Linked DNA regions of Homo sapiens: region 2 is linked to region 1. Evidence: fine-mapped expression QTL. Tissue or cell type: whole blood. Region 1 holds a variant in brackets; the other region holds the start of a gene. All regions are shown on one strand. Distances are from middle to middle.

Region 1 (5,255 bases):
TTGAGCCCAGGAGAGCAAGGCTGCAATGTGCTATGATCACACCACTGTACTCCAGCCTGGGCGACAGAGCAAGAGCAAGACCCTGACTCTTTTTTTTGAGGTGGAGTTTTGCTCTTGTTGCCCAGACTGGAGTGCAATGGTGTGATCTCATCTCACCGCAACCTCCACCTCCTGAGTTCAAGTGATTCTCCTGCCTCAGCCTCCCGAGTAGCTGGGATTACAGGCATGTGCCACCACACCTGGCTAATTTTGTATTTTTAGTAGAGACAGGGTTTCTCCATGTTGGTCAAGCTGGTCTCGAACTCCCAACCTCAGGTGATCCGCCCACCTCAGCCTCCCAAAGTGCTGGGATTACAGGCATGAGCCACCGCGCCCGGCTGACCCTGTCTTTAAAATAAATAAATAAGTAAATTGGCAGGCACTGTGGCTCACACTTGTAATCCCAGCACTTGAGAGGCCAAGGCAGGCAGATCATTTGAGGTCAGGAGTTTGAGACCATCCTGGACAACATGGCGAAACCCAGTATCTACTAAAAATACAAAAATTAGCCAGGCATGTGGTGCATGTCTGTAATCCCAACTACTCAGGAGGCTGAGGCAGGAGAATCGCTTGAACCTGGTAGGCGGAGGTTCCAGTGGGTCGAGATCGAGCCACTGCACTCCATCCTGGGCGACAGAACGAGACTCTGTCTCTCAAAAATAAATATCTAAATAAATAATAAATAAATGAAATCAGTTTTAAAAGCTGCGGAGCCCTGCTGAGGATTTTCCCGTCCAGCGAGGCTTTCAATCCCAGAGCATGTAAGGAAGACTGGGGAGAGAGGTCTGCACTTAGATGGCCAGACACCAATGACCCTGAGCCTGTCTGGTACAGGGCCCTACTTTGTGACACCAAGGTCTGCAGAGCCCAGGGCGTCCTGGCCAAGGCAGTGGTAAGATGTCACCAGGCACAGTGGTATGGCCTGAGGGCAGAGCAGCCTCACCCTGGGCAGGGTCTTCTTCACCCTTGTGTTGTCTCATGTTGGCCCCCTCCAGCACAGGCACAAAGAGGGCTCCCACCTGACACGCTGGCATTCCCAGAGGCTGTCACAGGTTAATGCCCCCAACACAGGTAGAGATCGCACACATCCCTCCTCTTCCCGTCCTCCCCAGGGTGAAAAACAACAGCAACATCAAACAACTGAACAGAGATTTTGGCTTGGAGAGTAAAGTTCAGAGCTGCCCCGCCCCTCCCTTCGGGGTGAGAGGTCACTCCAGCAGCGCTGTGGGTAGCAGGGAAGGAGCTATTTACAATCCCGGCTGGGGTCTAAGCCTCGCTGCCACGTGGGTTTGCCACTCGGGGCCTGCAAGTCTGCCGATATCCACCAGGTGGCGCAGCACCTGGGCTGGGACTCGCCGGAGCTGTGAGGGGAGCTTGGGATGGGTTTGCGGTCGGTGGAGCGGGTGTTGGTCCTTGAGGGGACTCAAGCAGCTGCGCCGTAGGACCCTCTGTTCTCAGGCCTGGGGCAGGGTGGGCTAAGGCCCAGCCCACTCTCCGTCCATTTCTCTTATCCCCACTCTCTTCTTTTCCTCCCCTAGTTGTAGATGCCATGGGGTTGGGAGTGGACTTGGGCTCAGTCCACAGCCGTCCAGCCCAGACCTACTCGGCACGCAAATCTCGCCATTCTCTCTCAACCTCCATGTTCCGTCCAGCTGGCAAACCAGGGATACAGACTGGGCTGGAGGTACGTGGCAGGGACAGAGGCGTGGACTGGAGGTGGTGGTGACGGGGCTGGGGGGCCATGGATTGGAATGAAGGACACAAGCTGGGACCAGGAGACAAGGACTAGGATGAGGGGGGCGGGAGGATATGGAGGGGGGGAACGAGGGGCATGAGCTGGGTTGGGGGCATGGACTGGCAAGAGGGGTCCAGGTGGGAGGTGATGGGAACACAGGCTCGGTGTCTGCAGCCTGTGGACGACAGTCTGGGGAAGTGTGACGCGGATGGGATAGCCCAGATGTGCTGGGGCCAGGTCAGCCAGAGACACACTGGGCCCAGAGCAGCAGAGCAGCTTCAGGCTGAACCTAGTGATGTGGCCTGTGATCTGACTCCAAAGAGGTCTGGCCTCCTCCAGTCTCCTCCGG[T/C]GTGGCCTGGGGGAGGGGCAGATATGACTCCTCCCCAGAGTGTTAGCACCAAACTCTTGGCCTTCGCCACAGCATCTGGCCCCAGGTAATTACAGGGGCCAAGCCTGGCTATAAAAGGATGGATGGGCCAGCCTAGGAACCTGGGAGAGCTAGGTTCAACTGACCGGAGGTCCACCAGCCTGCCTCTGAGAGGCTGGCATTGGCCAGGGGATACTAGAGTTTCACATTCAATGGCATACACTTCATATGCCATACACCAATCATATAATCTCATAACCTTGCAACCACACACAGTCAATCAAACTCGGTGCTGAGGGAGAGGGGGCTGGGGGGCAAAGCAGGGAGGAAAGCAGGGGCTTTGTTCACACCACTGAAGTGGGAGAGGCCCCCCACGGGACTGAGGGACCAGTCCAGGCACCCACAGGAGGGAACACGCACACACACTCATCCATCACTTGCACACACATCCATGTGTGCACATTCGACCCGTTTTGCGGCCGTCACACTCAAGCCATTCATGGGTATTAGGCACATACTAACGCCCCACTGTCTATAACACACTCACGCAGGCACCAGACCCCACACAGGGCAAGGGGCTCCCAGGTACCCTGAGCCGCGCTTGCATCCAGGGTCACATACGGTGACACACTTGAGGGCTGGCATTCAACAGATGATACAATTCTCTAACACGGACCCAATGACAATCCCAGCCAAGCCAACTGGGCAAACCCTAGAGTCAAGAAAATCAGAAGAGGGAGGAGGTGGGAGGGGGTAGATCAGAGCCACATTCACACCCTCTGGAAACCGATAGGTCATTTCAACAGCCACAGGAGACACAAAAACAACCTCTAGGACCCCAAGGATATACCCAGACACATACACAAACACAAGGAGAGGCAGGGGCTTCTCAATCACATCCATATGTGCACCCACAGATACGTGCCCACACCCAACATCACACGCAGTGCCCACCACATTCTTCCCAGGGACCTTGGGAACCTCCTACCCACTCCTGCCTTGTGCTGGTGAAGGAGAAGACAATGGTGGGGAGCAGAGGGGGCTGGGAAGAGTAAGAGCTAAGCTTGAGACAGGAGAAAGCCCTCTTCCCACACCACAGACATGCCTGCACACACACACACACACACACACACACACACACACACACACACACATACACAGATGCCAGACCTTGAGCCTCCAGGGAGAGCCCTGAGGAGAAATCAACAGAGGCTGTCCAACTCCACGTGGGGCCATGCCCATATCTGACCACCTGGACACCAGCACTGCCCACTCTGGGCACAGACCCCAGGCCTGGCCTCTCTGCACCATTAAGCACACTGGGCATGGAGGGTGACCCTCGCATCCCTCTGTGACCCCAGGCTTGTCACTTGGGTGCCCTTCAGGGCCTGGCAGGACCTGGTCTGACAGTGGAAAAAGCAAATATTCTCAGTGCCCTCCTAATACGGCCCCCAAAAGAGGCCTTAAGAGCCTTCCTCCCTCCTTGCAGGCTAAGCACACAGCAGGCATCATGCTAACCCCTGGGTATACAACCCCGAGTCTGGCGGCCATTTGGCTGGGCCTCTGGCCAGAGTTGTCAGGGAAGACTTTGGGAGAGATGAGAGGCTTGAGGGATGATTGGCAGTTTGCCAGCTAGGGTGTGGGTGTTGGCTGGGAGGGACTACGAGGGGAGACAGGCCAGCAGAGGGGGCAGCATGATCAAAAGGACGGAGGCTGCTGTGTTTATGTTTCACAGCATAAGCAGTCACAAAAACATTCACACTCACAACAGAGCACGCCCTTTTCACACAGGGCGCCTTTGTACACATGTGCACCCTCCTGGAGCAACACTCTGCAGTTTGTTCGCTCCAGGCTGCCCTCACACCACTCCGTGGCACCATCCCCGCAGTCTCCATGAGATGACATCCCTTAGAGATCCTCTCACACCTGCACCCTGCTGAAGGGCTGCCTGTCTGTGGGTGCCCACAGTGAGCACCCAGAGTTGAGGGAGCCTCCTCTCCTGGGACAAGTGGTTGGGAAGCCGGGGACATCTGAGCAGTCCCTGAGCCTTCTAGGGCTGGAGCGAGCAGAGAAGCCGAGGAGACTGTGGCTGCCTGAGATTCTTAGAAGCAGCAATTCTCTTTTAGCCAAAAGCACTTAAGCAGAGGCCTGAGTTAAAAATAGGCTGGATTTACTGCCAGAAGGTGGCAGGAGAGGAAGTTTCTTTCTGACGGTACTCATTCTATCCCAAACACCTACAGAGGCTCTATGGGACCCTGCTGGGCTGGGGAACTCCACCCAACTGTTCTGTGTGCCAAGGGGGTGGCCAGCACACCCCTTGTGATCTTCATTTTATCTCCTTTATTGGTTCATAATACTACACTTACATTTTTTTGTGGTTCTTTTAGGATTACACAATGCTTCTTTAACTTATAGTCTATCTCCATCAAGTAATATCACACCACTCAGCGCAAACACCTTCCTCCCATTCCCCACCTCTCCGCCTTTGTGCTATTGTCACCATGGATTTATTTCTACACATGCTATAAGCCCCACAATACATTATTAGATTTGCTCTAAACCCTCAAGTATCTTTTAAAGAGAATTTTAAAATCAGAAAAATATCTTTTCTATCTACCCACATATTTACCATTTCCAGCTCTCTTCATTCCTTTGTGTAGACGGAGATTTCCATCTGGTATCATTTTTCTTCTGCTTGAAGGACTTTTTAAAGCCGTTCTTCTAGTGCAGGTCTACTGATGATGAATTCTTTCAATTTTGGAATGTCTGAATGCATCTTTATTCCATCTTCCTATTTGAAAGATATCTCCACTGAATTCTAGGTTGACAGTTTTTATCTTTTCGTACTTTAAAGACATTACTCCACTGTCTTCAGGGTTGCATTGTTTCTGACGAGAAATCACTTCTATTTTTCCTTTTTACACAATGTGTTTTTTTCCTCTGGCAGCTCTTAAGATTTGTGTCTTTATCACTGGTGTTCAGCAGTGATTAAGGCAGATTATGATGTACCCTTGGTGTAGTTGTCTTCATATTTCTTCTGCTTAGGGTTTATTGAGCTTCTTCGACATAGGGATTTATAGTTTCCATCAAATTTGAAAATTATTGTTCCTTCAG
Region 2 (5,000 bases), 160 kb after region 1:
GTGATCCGCCTGCCTGGGCCTCTCAAAGTGCTGGGATTACAGGAATGAGCCACCGTGCCCAGCATAGGACCTTCTTGACTCTACCCCACCATCCAGTCCCATTCTCTAAAGCACCCTCTCCTGGTCCCAGACCAGCATCACATACTTAACTCACTCCCTGCCATCTCCCCTTCTCATCCTCCCCACTAAACATCCATTCCTCCAATAGATGAGGATAATAGATAACCCATAGCCCCTGGTGCTCAAAAGCCAGATCTGTAGCCATTGTTCCCTCAGGCAAGTCTCAGCACACACACCCCTGCCCCCACCATACCTGCGTGCCCTGGCCCCTGCTCCCTTCTCACCGTATGCACGAGGTCCAGGGAGAAGATTTGGATGCAGCAGACAATAGCAGAGAGTGTACAGATTATAGCGGCACAAATGGTGAGCCCACAGACGCTGAAGAGCAGGTTCTGGGGAAGGGAAAGGAGGAGAGGAGTCAGGAGACGGCTAAGTTCCACACATTATGGGCCTGTGAGTACCCCAGCAGGGGAGGCAAGAGTGAGAACCAGGAGGATGTTTGCAGGGTGCAAGCTCACCTTGAGGGCCCCTCGGGCTTCATCACAGGTGGAGTTAGGGGCAACTTTCAGTTCCTGCCCCGACTCTGGACAGGGCCGGAGGAGGGGAACAGAGGGACAGCACACACAGACCTTTCCTTCCTGAGTGGAGCAGGGAGGGTGAGGCAGCCTGAGTCAGGACAAACTGAGGTGTCCTGCACACCTCCCCCAGCCAGTTCTTTCCAGCTCTCCCTCCTCAAATCTCACCAGAGAGCACTGTTGGAAGTCTCGGGCCAGTTGAGCATTCTTACAGGAGAGAACAGAGCCAGCCATGCTAAGCATGACACAGAGCACCGAAAGCAAGGAGAAGAAGGAGATCTGGGGAAAACAGGGTGCAGACTCAGGGCTGGGACCCTCATGAGTACTCCTCTGCCACGGACAGAGTCCCCCTCCTTCACAGACACTTCGTGCCCACCCGGCTGGCACCAACTGGGGAGCCAGTTCCCTTCTTGAGGACATAAATGGGCTTCCCCTTGCGTGCTGGGCACCTGCCTCCCAGTGGGCACTGGACCCTGGCACCTACCACTAGAGTGAATGGCCGCTTCCAGGACACAATGCCAACCACCCCGGAGAACGCCAGCTGGGGACAGAGTGGGCACAGGCTCAGCCTGGCAGGGGAGGCTCCTGAGTGAGCCCCTCACCACAGGATGCACCCAGCCCTGTAAGGAGGCAGAGGACCAGGAGAGGGAGGAGAGGCAAGCATGTGGACTTGCAGCTGGTGTGGAGGGTGGGGCCCGAGGAGCCTCCCCCACCCAACAACTGTGCACCCAACTCACCGAGAACCCAGCCCAAGACGGGCAGGACCTCTTGATGCTCTCGGTGGTGGTGACGGAAGAGGCCACCATGCTGAAGGTGACCACCAGGATGCCCAGGAGCACTTGGACCAGCCCCAGCGTAAGCAGGGCCTGCAGCCAGGGTCGGTGGAGGCGGAGGTGGGTAAGGCCCCTGGTGCTGGGCCGGCTGGTCAGCGAGCGGCTGGAGTCACTAGGCGAGGGCATCATGCCTGCTGCCCGGTTGCCTGCGCCTCGCTCGGCCCTCCCTGGCACTTGGGAGCATCTCAGAGGCGCCCAAGGCCCCGTCCTTTCTCCTCTCCACCCCACTCGCTCTAGAGCCCACCCCCTGGCTGGGTCCCCTGGGGCATGGCCGAGGGACGCCAGCTGTGGGGGGGGCCAAGCGAGGGGCGTCACGGAGGGACCGCGGAGTGCTCCCTCCCCACCACGGGCACTGGACGGGCACCGTGCCCGGGGCGACGATGAGGACGCGGGGGCACCGGCTCATCGCATCTCCCTAGGGAAGAGGGGCACCGAGAAGGGCCGGTCCAGGAGTGAGGAGGGGGCGGCGGCCTGGAGCCCAGGGAGGGGTGGGGAGGGTAAAAGCGGGAAGGATGGAAATAAGTCTAGAGAAGAGGGGAGGGGTCGGCGTGGGGTGACTCTAGAGGCGCGGTCGGTGTGCCCTCAGGGCGTCCAGTAGGATCCGGGGCCGCCTGGTGGGGAGAGGCCGCGGCGCCGCTGTCTCCTGTGTCGCCTGTCCCGCTCCCCTCCCCACCACGCTCCGCTCCCCGAGCTCCGGCTGCCGCAGGTCGGGGACTAGAGAAGGGGGATGGGAATGGGGATGGTGCGGGAAGGAGGGGCATGGCGGCGAGGGCCGGCGCGGTGCACCCCGGGAGTTGTAGTTCGGGACTGAGACCCTGTCGGGGTTGGGGGATCCCGCGGCAGGGCGAGGCAGTCGGATAAGCGCTCCTCCAGTCCCTGCCTCGCTCTGGACCCTGGCTAGGCTGCTAGTGATCCTTTGGGCCTCCACTTGAGCCCCATCCAGCTTTTCAGGCTCCAGGCCCGCGTATTCCTTGGCGTTCCCGGCAGAGGCGGTGGCTCTTCCCCGTCATTAATGGAGAGGGGTGGGGAGCAGGGCTCCCTGGCGTCTCCGGGTTTCGCGTTTCCGTGGACTTCCCACCTCCTTCCTGCGCCAGCCACTCGGGCTCCACCGCCCCGCCCCTCATATCTCCCAGTTTACACTAAAGCCGGGTCCGACCTTCCCACCTCACTCCACACTCTCCTTTCTCTTTCATAAGGCCTAATTCCCAATGAAGATTCAGGAAACGGGGATGTCAGTTCCAGTTCCACTTTCTTTTTATTTAAATAACCGAAGCAACAGCCGTGGCACAGCAGAGGGAAGCTGGGTTGGGGCGTGTGAGAGGTGGCAGCAGTGTGGCCTGATGGGGGGACTAGGTCACAGTGAACTCCCCACACGCCTGTCAGGTTCAGCAGTCATGGCCATAGGATTGGGAGCACTACGGAGGAGCCATCAGTTAGTGATGTCTCTCCAAGTCCCAGAGACCTTAGGGACGGGAGCTAAGTCAGCTCCCTCAAGTAGCAGGGCCAGGGCATCCCAGTCAGGGGTCACGGGGCCCGGAAGGCATTTTCAGCAGCCCCAGCGGCTGCATTGGCAGCTGCGGTTCGCACCGCAGGGTTGGAGAAGACACCAGCAGCAAATTCTTGCTGGGCCTTCTGAAAGCTGGCACCTGTGCGGCGGTATAAGGAGTGGATCTGCAAGTAGAGGACAAAGACATTACCGCCCATTCCAGCCACTGGTTCCCCACCCCAGCCTAACAGCATCACTACCACTCAGCAGCCTGCTGCCCAGCACACACACTCACACACAGAAACACACACCCCAGAGGTCCATTAGCTGAGAACAACCCAGCAGCCTGACCTGTGCCAGTTGCTCCTGAATGTTCCACCCACGCCCCTGGGGACCCATGATCTCACCATCCCGGCCCCACCTTCGACACAGCCCTCACCCGTTTCAGCATGACAATTCCTAGCACAGCAATGCCAGTGAAGAGCAGGGCGACCAGCAGCATGAGCACGGATACTGCTGTGTTGCCCTTCGGCACCACCAGAGCAGAGATCCAGCCACTGTAAAGGGAAGGATGTACCAGTGAAGAGGGGCTCCTCAGCTTCTCCACTGGTTATGTCACCAGCATCCCCTGTTCCTACCCTTCCCATCAGCAGTGGCTCCCTGTCAATCGAGCAGCATTCCAAGCACCACAATCCCAAACTGTATCTAATCTCTTCATAGTTTAATTCCAGTTTCTGAACCATTAGCCCTGAGCTCTCCAAGCTCTTCCAGGCACTCATCTGGGGATTCTTCTTCCTCCTTTCAACCATGGTTCTATGCCTCCTCCAGGAAGCCACCTTAGATTGGCCAAATGCAGCATTCTTCCCTTCAATCTATATGTGTCAAGAGTGCTGTCTGCGCTCTATCCTGGAAGTATGTCTTGTATCTCATTAAACTAGTACCTCCCAAGGATTAAAACCACATTTCCTTTTTCTGAACAACTCCTATCCCAGCACCCAGTGCTGGCTGGATCTAGAGGGAAAGGTGAGGGTGGATAACAGCCTCACAAACCTGAATCCCCAACCTGGGATACCAATGGCCTGGAGGACAAAGAGCACATCCTGGACGAAGAAAATGAAGAAGAAAACGAAGAAATTGAATGAACTGTCACTCCTACAAAGAGGAAAAAAATGGGGAGGGTGGGAGAAGAATTAGAGCTGAAGGATGGGCAGACGTGGGGCCCATCCCAGGTCTCCATCACTCTCCCACCACTAACACACTTACCGGAAAGCCTTATACATGGGGCGGTACCAGCAGACAAAGGAGCAGGGAGTGAAAAGGAGGACCCAGAGGATAGAAAGCCCAAAGCCTGCGCCATTGTTGGTTTCCACACAGAAGCTGGCCAGGCAGGCGAGGAAGTTCAGGAGAAGAGCCAGCGTGCTGCCTAAGGGGCAGAGGGACAGGATGAGGAGCCCTTCTGGACTGCAATGAAGGCTCCTTCCCATCTATGCTCATCCTATAATATTCACCAAACATGGCAGAGTAAGGAAATGAAGGCAGCTGCTGCCTTCATGGAATCCTCAACAGGGGAGATGGAGAAAGCAAATGTCAATAATGTGTGATCCCCTTGCAAAGACATTTTTTTTTTTGAGACGGAGTCTGGCTCTGTCGCGCAGGCTGGAGTGCAGTGGCGCAATCTCAGCTTACTGCAAGCTCCGCCTCCCCGGTTCACGCCATTCTCCTGCCTCAGCCTCCAGAGTAGCTGGGACTACAGGCGCCCGCCACCACGCCCAGCTAATTTTTTTTTTTCTTTTTTTTTTTTTGAGATGGAATCTCGCTCTGTCGCCCAGGCTGGAGTGCAGTGGCAGGATCTCGGCTCACTGCAAGCTCTGCCTCCTGGGTTCACGCCCATTCTCCTACCTCAGCCTCCTAAGTAGCTGGGACTACAGGCACCCGCCACCACGCCCGGCTAATTTTTTGTATTTGTAGTAGAGACGGGGTTTCACCGTGTTAGCCAGGATGGTCTTGATCTCCTAACCTCATGTTCTGCCCACCTGGGCCTCCCAA

The links. PIP is the estimated chance that this variant, and not a neighbour inherited with it, causes the effect.
Region 2: it holds the start of ENTREP3, and the variant in region 1 is fine-mapped to the expression of ENTREP3 in whole blood (INTERVAL, PIP above 0.99).

What each region holds. Positions count from the first base shown.
Region 1 is chr1:155,090,254-155,095,508 of GRCh38, forward strand. No RefSeq gene overlaps it. Among named protein-coding and RNA genes, the nearest start is that of EFNA3, 14 kb to the left of the region's middle. RefSeq lists an enhancer at 3,265-3,879. The variant T/C (reference allele first, on the strand shown) is at 2,124.
Region 2 is chr1:155,253,281-155,258,280 of GRCh38, forward strand. It overlaps ENTREP3 (endosomal transmembrane epsin interactor 3), which reads right to left and starts at 2,203. Exons shown (of 12, transcript NM_006589.3): 1 at 1,373-2,203; 2 at 1,120-1,176; 3 at 804-914; 4 at 579-698; 5 at 345-452. The coding sequence starts at 1,597. SCAMP3 (secretory carrier membrane protein 3) reads right to left here. Exons shown (of 9, transcript NM_005698.4): 6 at 4,218-4,377; 7 at 4,005-4,106; 8 at 3,394-3,511; 9 at 2,701-3,139. The coding sequence ends at 2,993.